Homo sapiens: one gene and its partners. The protein of the gene in region 3 purifies or fractionates together with the protein of the main gene of each other region. This does not show direct contact. Each region holds a gene or a part of one and is shown on either strand. Other genes may lie near its edges.

Evidence for each region.
Region 1: the proteins of RPS6KA2 (region 3) and KLHL25 purify together in Homo sapiens (affinity purification with mass spectrometry; one large-scale study listed by BioGRID and IntAct). This does not show direct contact.
Region 2: the proteins of RPS6KA2 (region 3) and NQO2 fractionate together in Homo sapiens (co-fractionation; one large-scale study listed by BioGRID). This does not show direct contact.

What each region holds. Positions count from the first base shown.
Region 1 is NC_000015.10:85,784,809-85,788,240, reverse strand, and holds part of KLHL25 (kelch-like protein 25), read left to right. Parts: exon of another isoform or gene 1-2,023; intron 2,024-3,432. UniProt on the Homo sapiens protein: Substrate-specific adapter of a BCR (BTB-CUL3-RBX1) E3 ubiquitin ligase complex involved in various processes, such as translation homeostasis and lipid synthesis.
Region 2 is NC_000006.12:3,002,874-3,006,523, reverse strand, and holds part of NQO2 (ribosyldihydronicotinamide dehydrogenase [quinone]), read right to left. Parts: intron 2,856-3,650; exon of another isoform or gene 2,735-2,855; intron 2,030-2,734; exon of another isoform or gene 1,873-2,029; intron 57-1,872; 5' UTR 1-56. UniProt on the Homo sapiens protein: The enzyme apparently serves as a quinone reductase in connection with conjugation reactions of hydroquinones involved in detoxification pathways as well as in biosynthetic processes such as the vitamin K-dependent gamma-carboxylation of glutamate residues in prothrombin synthesis.
Region 3 is NC_000006.12:166,428,102-166,431,751, reverse strand, and holds part of RPS6KA2 (ribosomal protein S6 kinase alpha-2), read left to right. Parts: intron 1-1,140; coding exon 1,141-1,299; intron 1,300-3,650. UniProt on the Homo sapiens protein: Serine/threonine-protein kinase that acts downstream of ERK (MAPK1/ERK2 and MAPK3/ERK1) signaling and mediates mitogenic and stress-induced activation of transcription factors, regulates translation, and mediates cellular proliferation, survival, and differentiation.

The DNA of each region.
Region 1 (3,432 bases), on a different chromosome or scaffold from region 3:
GCTGGGCCTGCGTGGGCTGCGGACAGAGACATCATGAGGCACAGAGAGGTGCCAGACCCTGACATTCTGCAGTCTTCTGGTGCAGGGAGAGACTGAGGATAACATTGTTCTCTTTCATTTTATTGTTTTTCTCTGATTTAAATAATATATCAATGGATTTCCTTTTTTTTTTTTTTTTTTTTTTGAGATCTAGTTTCCCTCTCATTGCCCAGGCCGCAGTGCGGTGGCGCGATCTCAGCTCACCTCCGCTTCCCGGGTTCAAGCAATTCTCCTGCCTCAGCCTCCCAAGTAGCTGGGATTACAGGCGCAAGCCACCACGCCCAGCTAGGATTTCCTTTATAAATGAAAAATATAGGAAAAGATGGAGCACAGTGTGAGGGTCCATCCCCTCCTTTGTATCTGTCCACAGATGGGTGCATACCCTTCTAGTCCTCCGTTGTATGTGCAGATTTTGTGTTTACATAATTTGAATCATACTCAATACTCTACAACTTATACCACTTAGTGTGTGGTGGAGCTCTTTTTCACAGCGTCGTCATATTCCACACTGCAGCCAAACCATCATTTCCTCTCATTGTGTCCTAAGGAGAGACTTTAGGTAATGCCTCATTTTCCCTGTATGATCAATGAAATCTTGTGTGTCCTTCATCATGCATCTTTCTGAGCAAGTGTGATTATTTTAAATTTTCATTGTCAAAGCCAAATGCCCTTTGCAAAGATTTACCCAGTTTACTCTTTCACTAATAATAGTGCCTGAATGCCCATTTCTCTACAGACTCACCTAATTTTTTTTTGAGACTGAGTTTCGCTCTTGTCACCCAGGCTGGAGTGCAATGGCATGATCTCAGGTTACAGCAACCTCTGCCTCCCAGGTTCAAGCGATTCTCCTGCCTCAGCCTCCCAAGTAGCTGGGATTACAGGCAAGCGCCACCACGCCCAGCTAATTTTGTATTTTTAGTAGAGACTGGGTTTCTCCATGTTGGCCAGGCTGGTCTCAAACTCCTGACCTCAGGTGATCCACCTGCCTCGGCCTCCCAAAGTTCTGGGATTACAGGCGTGAGCCACTGCGCCCAGCCCCCAAATTTTTGATGTTATCCACATTTTTAGTTTTAGCTAATGTGATGGGGTGGGGGGGCGGGTGGAATCTCATTGTTCCATTAAAAAAAATGTTTATTCAGGCTTTGTCCTTTGATTCTAGTCCACTTTTGTCTTTCCAGAAGATCAAAGTTTATTGAGTGCTGGTTCTGCCTCTTATTGGTCTCCTGACCTCAGCTGGGTACTCATCTGTGAAATGAAGCCCTTTAATCCCTGCCCGCCCCTGCCCCCCACTAGGCTGCTGTATTTTTTGCATGGGAAAACATTCCTGAAAGTTCATTTTATGCTGAAAAGCTCTGCAAACATGAAGAGGCATGGTTTTTACTAGCGAAATGGAAATATCTGGAACATTTGAGTGAATTCAGGTGTTTCTAAACAGCCAGCATATCCAGGGGAGGAGCTGGGGTGACTTTGCCCTTGTGCAGTGGAGCTGGCCTTAGGTGGGAGGTGTCTGCCTATTGTCCCAGAGATGCACGGGGCCTTACCTGGCTGAGAGCCATCTGGCTGGGCTTGAGAGCTCTTCTCAGAGGGCTGGCTTAGTCAATGATCTGTCACCTGTCTGCAGGAATAAAGAAATGAGCCAGGAGGACAGAGAGAGTTCCGTAGCTGGTCCAGAGAAAGGCCCAGAAAGGGGCAGTGGCCACCACAGACTAAACCCTGTTTACTTGCCTGTGTGGTCCCAGGAGGCATCGGGCCCCATGATAGAGGAGCCAGGGAACTGCTGACCATGGCCTGGGCCCCAGAGGAATTCATTACTGCTGGGTACCTGGGGACGTTTTGGCCAGGCTCTCCCCACCCTTCAGGAAGCAACATCCAGGTTTGGCCATGACTCCCCTGCTGCCCTGGAGATGACTCAGAACCAAGCTTCAGAGGAGGCTCCTGTGATCCCAGCCAGCCTGACCTACTTGGAACAATCTCAGGGACAGATGTAGGTAGGGGGAAGGGAGAGGGTAACCAAGGGGACAATGGGACCCTCAAAGGGCTTTGGTAGGGAGGGCTTCTGCCTTTATACCTCTGCAGCTAGTGAGCAGGAGAAGGGAAAGGGGAGGGGCCTCGCTGAAAGCAGTTTTTGCGTTTATTAGACACCTCCTGATTCTGAGAGTTGGGTGTTTCATTAAGAGAGTAAGGGAAGCATCTCACTCTAGAGCTGGTTTTGCATGGGTCCTCCTGGGGCGGGGGGGTGGGTCGGCTGCCTTTGCTGGGCTCCTGTCCCACTGCCATTGTGAGCGCAGCTTGAAGGCATTTCGCTGAGTTGGAGTGAGGTCGAATCACCAGGTTTCTTTTCAGGCATCAACTGGTATATCTGTGTTGCAGGAAGTTGCAGTTGCTATTTTTACCACTCCAACCAGGACTTTTTACTGGGAGGTACAATTACAAGCAAAATGCCAGGGTTTGGCTGGTTAGCTAAGCCGTGGGAGGCTGCTGCGGGCTGAGGCAGGGGCCACTGCACATGGTCCTTTGCTGTGTTGTACAAAGCAAGACACGTTTGCATGTGGACACACACCTACCCTGGTTGCTGGGTGGCTTTGTCTGAACCACTTCCTGTGCCTGGAGTTTCCTCTAGGTGGAAAAAAAAAAAAAGGACTTTGCTGGGTTTTGCTCAGATAATTGTACCTGGCTGCCAGGGCAGCTCCAAAGCTGTAAGCAATGTAGTTCTGACTGCCCAGAAGGTTGAAACTTTGTTAAATGAAATTGAGAACCTGCTCTATACTACCCACTCTGCTAAGGACCAGGATATAGGAATACATCAGTTGGCCGGGCGTGGTGGCTCATGCCTGTAATCCCAGCACTTTGGGAGGCTGAGGCAGGCAGATCACGAGGTCAGGAGATCGAGACCATCCTGGCTAACATTGTGAAACCTCGTCTCTACTAAAAATACAAAACATTAGCCGGACGTCGTGGTGGGCGCCTGTAGTTCCAGCTACTCAGGAGGCTGAGGCAGGAGAATGGTGTGAACCCGGGAGGCGGAGCTGGCAGTGAGCCGAGATCACACCACTGCACTCCAACCTGGGTGACAGAGAGAGACACTGTCTCAGAAAAAAAAAAAAAAAGAAAAAAGAAATACATCAGTCTCTGCTCTCTAGCATCACATGTCCAGGAATTGAAAATGCAGAAAGCGTGAGTTGTCTTCTGCTCCTTTTGGATAATTACCTGGTGTGTTTTTAATGTCTATACATTATGACTAGAGGCCAGGTGGGGCTTATATTGGTTTCTGTTACAGCATAACACATCATCACAGGCTTAGTGGCTTAATCAGTTCCTATTGATTAATGCACAGTTCTGTAGGCTGGAAGTCTGGGCTGGCCTGACTGGGTTCTCTACTTAGGGTCTCACAAG
Region 2 (3,650 bases), about 160 Mb from region 3:
ATTTGATGGGTGGCTGGGGCTTTCCTGCGTAGTCTCTCTTCAGCGAGTCCAGCAATCTGGAAGACAAAACGAACCCAGAGGGGGTGGGGAGAGGCATAGGTGAGGTCGAATGTACCACATCTAGGCATCACTGCTGCTTCCTGACAGACACGCAAACACATCAGAGAAAGACCTCTCAAGAGAGGCCAGGAATCTTCTGGAGATTTAGGCCTCAGAGGACAAGCCACGCAGGATGTCAAAACCCATACTTTTTTCCTTTTTTGAGAGGACTCTGAACCTTCCATCCAGACAGTCATACAGCAAAGGACCCAGGAAATGAGCCACGGTAGGAAGCAGGAGTTGAGCCTCCTTGGCCTTCCTGCCTTCCCCAGTTTTCCCCGTAGATCGAGCAGAAGGCTGGGGGATCAGTGAACCGCCACACCACCAATGGGTGCGTGCACTCCTCGGCTGGTGCCAGACTCTGGTGGGCCAGCACTGGCAGTTGTCGGCCCTTCCCCTCACTTGAAAATAATGGGAGTTGGCTTAGACCCAGGCTCTAACCAGAAGTCTCAGAGATTCTCCAGGGATGCAGCGGAGGCCAGAGGAGCAGAGGAGACCCCCGCATCAGACAGACTTGGTGCAATTTCCAGCTCTGCCCATTGTAGCTGTGGGCCCTGCAGCACATCCCTCCACCCCTCTGTGCCTCAACCTCCTCATCAACAAAGTCACAGCATGGCCCAGAAGAGTGAGAGAGAGACAGTTGCTATGTGCGGTGGCTGGCACACAATGGGGCTCTGGAAAAACGTGAGTTCTCCCCAGGGGAGCCTTTGGCCTCACCCCCTCCTGGCCATCTCTGAAATTCTGGCTTCCTTCTGGGAGATACAAGGAGACTCCAACAAACCCACTCTCCCTACCATAAAAAAACAGCTCAGATAAAACTTAACAACAACAAAGCAAACAACTCAATGCAAAAATGGGCAGAAGGCTTGTGTAGGCTTTTCTCCAAAGATGTATGAATGGTCAGTAAGCCATGAAAAGATGCTTAGCATCACTAATCATTAGGGAAATGCAAATCAAAACCACAATGAGATCCCATATCACACGCATTAGAATGGCTACTACTACCAAAAAACAAAACACACGTAGGTGAGGATGCGGAGAAGTTGGAACCCCGTGCACCGCTGGGGAAAGGTCGAGTGCTGCCGCTGCTGGAGAGGTGCTGTGCCCCCAAAAATTACAATTAGAAAAATGAGAATTAACATATGACTCAGCAATTCCATTCGTTACTCTGAACCCAAAAAACTGAAAGCAGGGTCTTGAAAACCACTTGCCCACCCATGTTCAAAGCAGCATTTTCCACAACAGCTAAAACATGGAAGCAACCCAAGTGTCTATCAGTACATGAATGAAAACAGCCAGAAAATTCTACCCTTAAAAGTGGCTAAAATGAGGTCAGGCACCGTGGCTCACACCTGTAATCCCAGCACTTTGGGAGGCTGAGGCAGGTGGATTACCTGAGGTCAGGAGTCCGAGACCAGCCTGGCCAACATGGCGAAACTCCGTCTCTACTAAAAATACAAAAATTAGCCGGGCGTGGTGGTGTGCACCTGTAATCCCAGCTACTCGGGAGGCTGAGACAGAGCGAGACTCTGTCCAAAAACACAAAAAACAAACAAACAAAAAAAGTGGTTAAAATGGTCAATTTTATGTGAGATGTTCTGTACCACAGTAGGAAAAAATGGGATAAAAAAACAATGCAGAGAGTGTGACTAGGGCTTAGTGTGAAGACACGCATCGCGCATGTTGTGTCCAAACGACAACGTGAACCTATCAGTGTGTCTTTACAGCAAAACAAAAAGCACAGAGACACACAAAAGTGGTGCTTATCCCCACCAGGACTGGAATCTTGAGCAGGGCCTGAATGAGCATCTTCCAGGGCCCACTCCTTATCTCCAGCTGTCCAGGAGCACAGGCACAGGGCTGGGGTCTGCAGAATACTGCAAGAAGTGAGGTGGGTGCTGAGGAGTGGGCTCCACCCAGGCCAGGTGCCCTGTGGATGGAAAGGAAAAGAGGCTACATCATTGTGGCTGAAGCTGAGTTGGGGGCAGGCATGGGACTTAACAGAGTGGGGCACTGTCACTCCCCAAGAGGGCAGACAGCTCTGATCACTCCAAACACCCAAAGGTGACTTCAAATCCTTCCCCATTCGCTTGACTTCACTGGACAGCTGGGAACCTGCATCTTTAGTGACTGAATATCCCCACTCTGGTTCCCCAAGGACAGACCCTGAATTGATTCCAGGAATCCACGTGTACAGGTAAGCACTACATTTCCTAGGCTGCCTTGCAGTTGAGATGGCCAGTGAGGTGTCAGCAGAAGTCACAGGCGGGGCTTCCAAGAAATACCCTCAAGAAGCGAACTCAGCTGGGGCTGGGAGGTGTGGGAGCTAGCTCCCTCTGGCTTTGTCGCTGGCTCTCTTCCCAGCTGGACTGTGGGATGATGTTAGGGCTCAGTCAGCCTTCTTGTCGTCCTGGGGATGGAGGCTATGCACCAAGGGCAGGGAGCAGAAATACCAAAGGAACCTGGATTCCCGGGGCTCTCTTGGGGCTGCAAGATGGTGGTGGATTGGCAACTGCAGATATTTGTGTTTATGTATTTTCCATGCAGAAACATCTACAATGGCACTGAGTCTGTAGCGAGGGCCATGCACTGTCTGTCTGAAAGTGCTCCAGGCACAGGCTTTGTGTCCAAGTACCTTGCTGTGTTTAAGGTACATCACAGCACCGGAGAATGTGGGAGAGGTCACATTCATCCCTTCAAAGCGCAGGGAGGTTCCTATTCTGACACCAGCAACACTTACAAGAATGAACCTAAAGCTGGGCAGTGAGGAAGGAAAGGAAAAAGAAAGTTTATGAATACAGGTAGTATTGTTTGAACCGGTAAGTTGCACTATAAATCACAATAAAAGATAGTCTGTATATCACTAAAACAGAAGAGTTGGCCGCCCTGAGGATGAGGCCTTTGGGTCTCCAGGCATTTGCCAGCTCTCCTAGCCTAGGGGCAGGGGCGCCTGCACAGCCCTCTGCTTTTCCTAGAATTCTCAGCAGCGAGCATGTGTCAGGGAGAGACATGGTTGTCTTAGCACTGAGGCTGAAATCCTGGATGTTCTTGGGAGGGCAGTGATTGTGAAGAACAAGTTACTTGTCTAGTTCCTGGGGGTCACTCCTCAAAGCCTCCCGATGAGGCAAGTTTACAGGATCCATGCTCCCTGAGCCAGCAGTGACACCCACACTTGGCAGTGAGAAGTGGGGCTGTAACTTACAGGGTGAGCCAAAATGGCGGGTCTGGAAAGGGATTATCTTAAAGGAAAAAGAGAGGAGAGTGAGTGACTTCATCATTAGCTGGGAGGCTCTACAGTGCCCTGGTGGACAGTCACTGCCTGGAGGTGACTTTGTAGAAAGCAAACTTTGGCTATCACAATGCATAGGGAGGCCTGGCAAAGCCCAGGGAAGCAGAAGGCCCAGCACTTTGAGAGGCTGAGGCAGGAGATCACTTGAGCCTAGGAATTTGAGACCAGCCCGGGCAACATAGTGAGATCCCATCTCTACCAAAGATTTTTAAAAATTAGCCAGGTGTGGTGGTGCATGCCTGTAATCCCAGCTACTCAGGGG
Region 3 (3,650 bases):
CCAGCTACTCCGGAGGCTGAGGCAGGAGAATTGCTTGAACCTGGGAGGTGGAGGTTGCACTGAACCGAGATTACACCATTGCACTCCAGCCTGGGCAACTGAGAGAGACTCCATCTCAAAAAATCGAAACATAAAAAGAATAATCAGAGCATATTGTTTTTATTTAGTTTATGAGATAAAAGCCAGTATGGAGAAAACTATCTTTTTCTATTGCTTCTCTGAAGCAACAGCACGGCTCTGATATGTAACTTCGCCCTGGACTCTGCCTAGCCTCTCTGTGCTCCCAGCGCCTGGCCACTCAGTGCTGTCCATGCGGTAGCAGCACAGACATCATGGGAAACTGGTTAGAAATGCGGAGGGCCAGGCCCCACCTCAGTCTGCAGGACCAGAACATGCATTTTAGCAAGATCCCCAAGATTGGATTGGATGCACGTTACAGTTTGAAAAGCACTGCCTTGAGGCCCTGCTCTTGCAAGGTGGTTTGCCAACATTTGCATTTCTTAACGTCTAAATATCTCCTGGCAGGCCAGGCACTATGGCTCACGCCTGTAATCCCAGCACTTTGGGAGGCTGAGGCAGGCGGATCACTTGAGGCCAGGAGTTTGAGTCCAGCTTGGCCAACATGGTGAAACCCTGTCTCTACTAAAAATACAAAAATTAGCTGGGCATGGTGACGTGCACCTATAATCCCAGCTACTCGGGAGGCTAAGGCAGGAGAATCGCTTGAACCCAGGAGGAGCTGGAGGTTGCAGTGAGCTGAGATGGCGCCACTGCACTTCAGCCTGGGTGACAGAGCGAGACTCCATCTCAAAAAATAATAATAATAAATAAATAACAAATATCTCCTGGCAGAGTCATGAAGCCATTCATCTCAGCTAAGGACACGCCCATCTTGTATGTCCTTACTCAGTCCCTGCTTAGCAGCAGATTATTAAAGCCGTTTTCTTCCTAAAAAGAGCACATATGGTATGACAGGAATGGCCATTTGCTTCTACCCTGCAGAAGCCTTGTTTGCACTCCCATAGGACCCTGTGGTCCCAGCCTCTCCCCTCTGACTTCCCTCTCCTGTCCCCTCTGGAGTAGTTGCTCTTTCACAGCAACCAGCCGTGGTGACGTGTGCGCCCCTTCTCCACTCCGCAGGTCTATGATGATGGCAAGTTTGTGTACCTGGTAATGGAGCTGATGCGTGGTGGGGAGCTCCTGGACCGCATCCTCCGGCAGAGATACTTCTCGGAGCGCGAAGCCAGTGACGTCCTGTGCACCATCACCAAGACCATGGACTACCTCCATTCCCAGGGGGTAGGAGCCATGCCTGGGGCAGCCTTCGGGGAGGAGGGAGCTTCAGGGCAGGAACCAAAACCACAAGGGTTTATGGGTTCAAGAGCTGAGAACGCGGATTGTCCTGGAATTCCTTCCGTGCCACCATCGTCTCTCTTGTGTCTGGAGGCTCAGTGACGGTGCAAGGGAAGAAAAATTCTCTTCCCAGCCGGGTGCAGTGGCTCACACCTGTAATCCCAGCACTTTGAGAGGCCAAGGCGGGCAGATCACGAGGTCAGGAGTTCGCGACCAGCCTAGCCAACATGGTGAAACCCTGTCTCTACTAAAAATAACAACAACAAAAAAAAAATTAGCTGGGCATGATGGCACACACCTGCAATCCTAGCTACTCGGGAGGCTGAGGCAGGAGAATTATTTCAACCCAGGAGGCGGAGGTTGCAGTGAGCTGAGATAGCACCATTGCACTCCAGCCTGCGTGACAGGACGAGACTCCATCTCAAAAAAAAAAAAAGAAAAGAAAAATTCTTTTTTCCCTCTGCCCATCTTAGTTCTTCGGTGGAGGCCCTATAAACAAGACTGGCCAAAGACAGGTTAACAAGAGAAAAACAGAAGTTTATTAACATGTGCATCTCACATACACACGGGAGCACCCAGCCATGAATAACTCCAAGGAGTTGTTAGAACTTGAGCTTATATAGCATTTTAACAAAAGAACAATAATTTTGCTGGATGCAGTGGCTCATACGTGTAATCCCAGCACTTTGGGAGGCTGATGCAGGTGGATCACCTGAGGTCAAGAATTTGAGACCAGCCTGGCCAACATGGCAAAACCCCATCTCTACTGAAAATACAAAAATTAGCCAGGCTTGGTGGCACACACCTGTAATCCCAGCTACTCAGGAGACAGAGGCATGAGAATCGCTTCAACCTGGGAGGCAGAGGTTGCAATGAGCCAAGATCACGCCACTGCACTTCAGCGTGGGCGACAGAGCAAAACTCTGTCTCAAATTTAAAAATTTTTTTTTAATTTTATTATTATTATACTTTAAGTTTTAGGTACATGTGCACAATGTGCAGGTTAGTTACATATGTATACATGTGCCATGCTGGTGTGCTGCACCCATTAACTCGTCATTTAGCATTAGGTATATCTCCTAATGCTATCCCTCCCCCCCTCCCCCCACCCCACAACAGTCCCCAGAGTATGATGTTTCCCTTCCTGTGTCCATGTGTTCTCATTGTTCAATTCCCACGTATGAGTGAGAACATGCAGTGTTTGGTTTTTTGTCCTTGCGACGGTTTACTGAGAATGATGATCTCCAATTTCATCCATGTCCCTACAAAGGACATGAACTCATCATTTTTTATGGCTGCATAGTATTCCATGGTGTACATGTGCCACATTTTCTTAATCCAGTCTATCATTGTTGAACATTTGGGTTGGTTCCAAGTCTTTGCTATTGTGAATAGTGCCACAATAAACATACGTGTGCATGTGTCTTTATAGCAGCATGATTTATAGTCCTTTGGGTATATACCCAGTAATGGGATGGCTGGGTCAAATGGTATTTCTAGTTCTAGATCCCTGAGGAATCGCCACACTGACTTCCACAATGGTTGAACTAGTTTACAGTCCCACCAACAGTGTAAAAGTGTTCCTATTTCTCCACATCCTCTCCAGCACCTGTTGTTTCCTAACTTTTTAATGAAAAGTGGTTTTGATTTGTGGTTTTGATTTGCATTTCTCTGATGGCCAGTGATGGTGAGCATTTTTTCATGTGTTTTTTGGCTGCATAAATGTCTTCTTTTGAGAAGTGTCTGTTCATGTCCTTCGCCCACTTTTTGATGGGGTTGTTTTTTTTTTTCTTGTAAATTTGTTTGAGTTCATTGTAGATTCTGGATATTAGCCCTTTGTCAGATGAGTAGGTTGCGAAAATTTTCTCCCATTTTGTAGGTTGCCTGTTCACTCTGATGGTAGTTTCTTTTGCTGTGCAGAAGCTCTTTAGTTTAATTAGATCCCATTTGTCAATTTTGGCTTTTGTTGCCATTGCTTTTGGTGTTTTAGACATGAAGTCCTTGCCCATGCCTATGTCCTGAATGGTAATGCCTAGGTTTTCTTCTAGGGTTTTTATGGTTTTAGGTCTAACATTTAAGTCTTTAATCCATCTTGAATTAATTTTTGTATAAGGTGTAAGGAAGGGATCCAGTTTCAGCTTTCTACATATGGCTAGCCAGTTTTCCCAGCACCATTTATTAAATAGGGAACCCTTTCCCCATTGCTTGTTTTTCTCAGGTTTGTCAAAGATCAGATAGTTGTAGATAAGCGGCGTTATTTCTGAGGGCTCTGTTCTGTTCCATTGATCTATATCTCT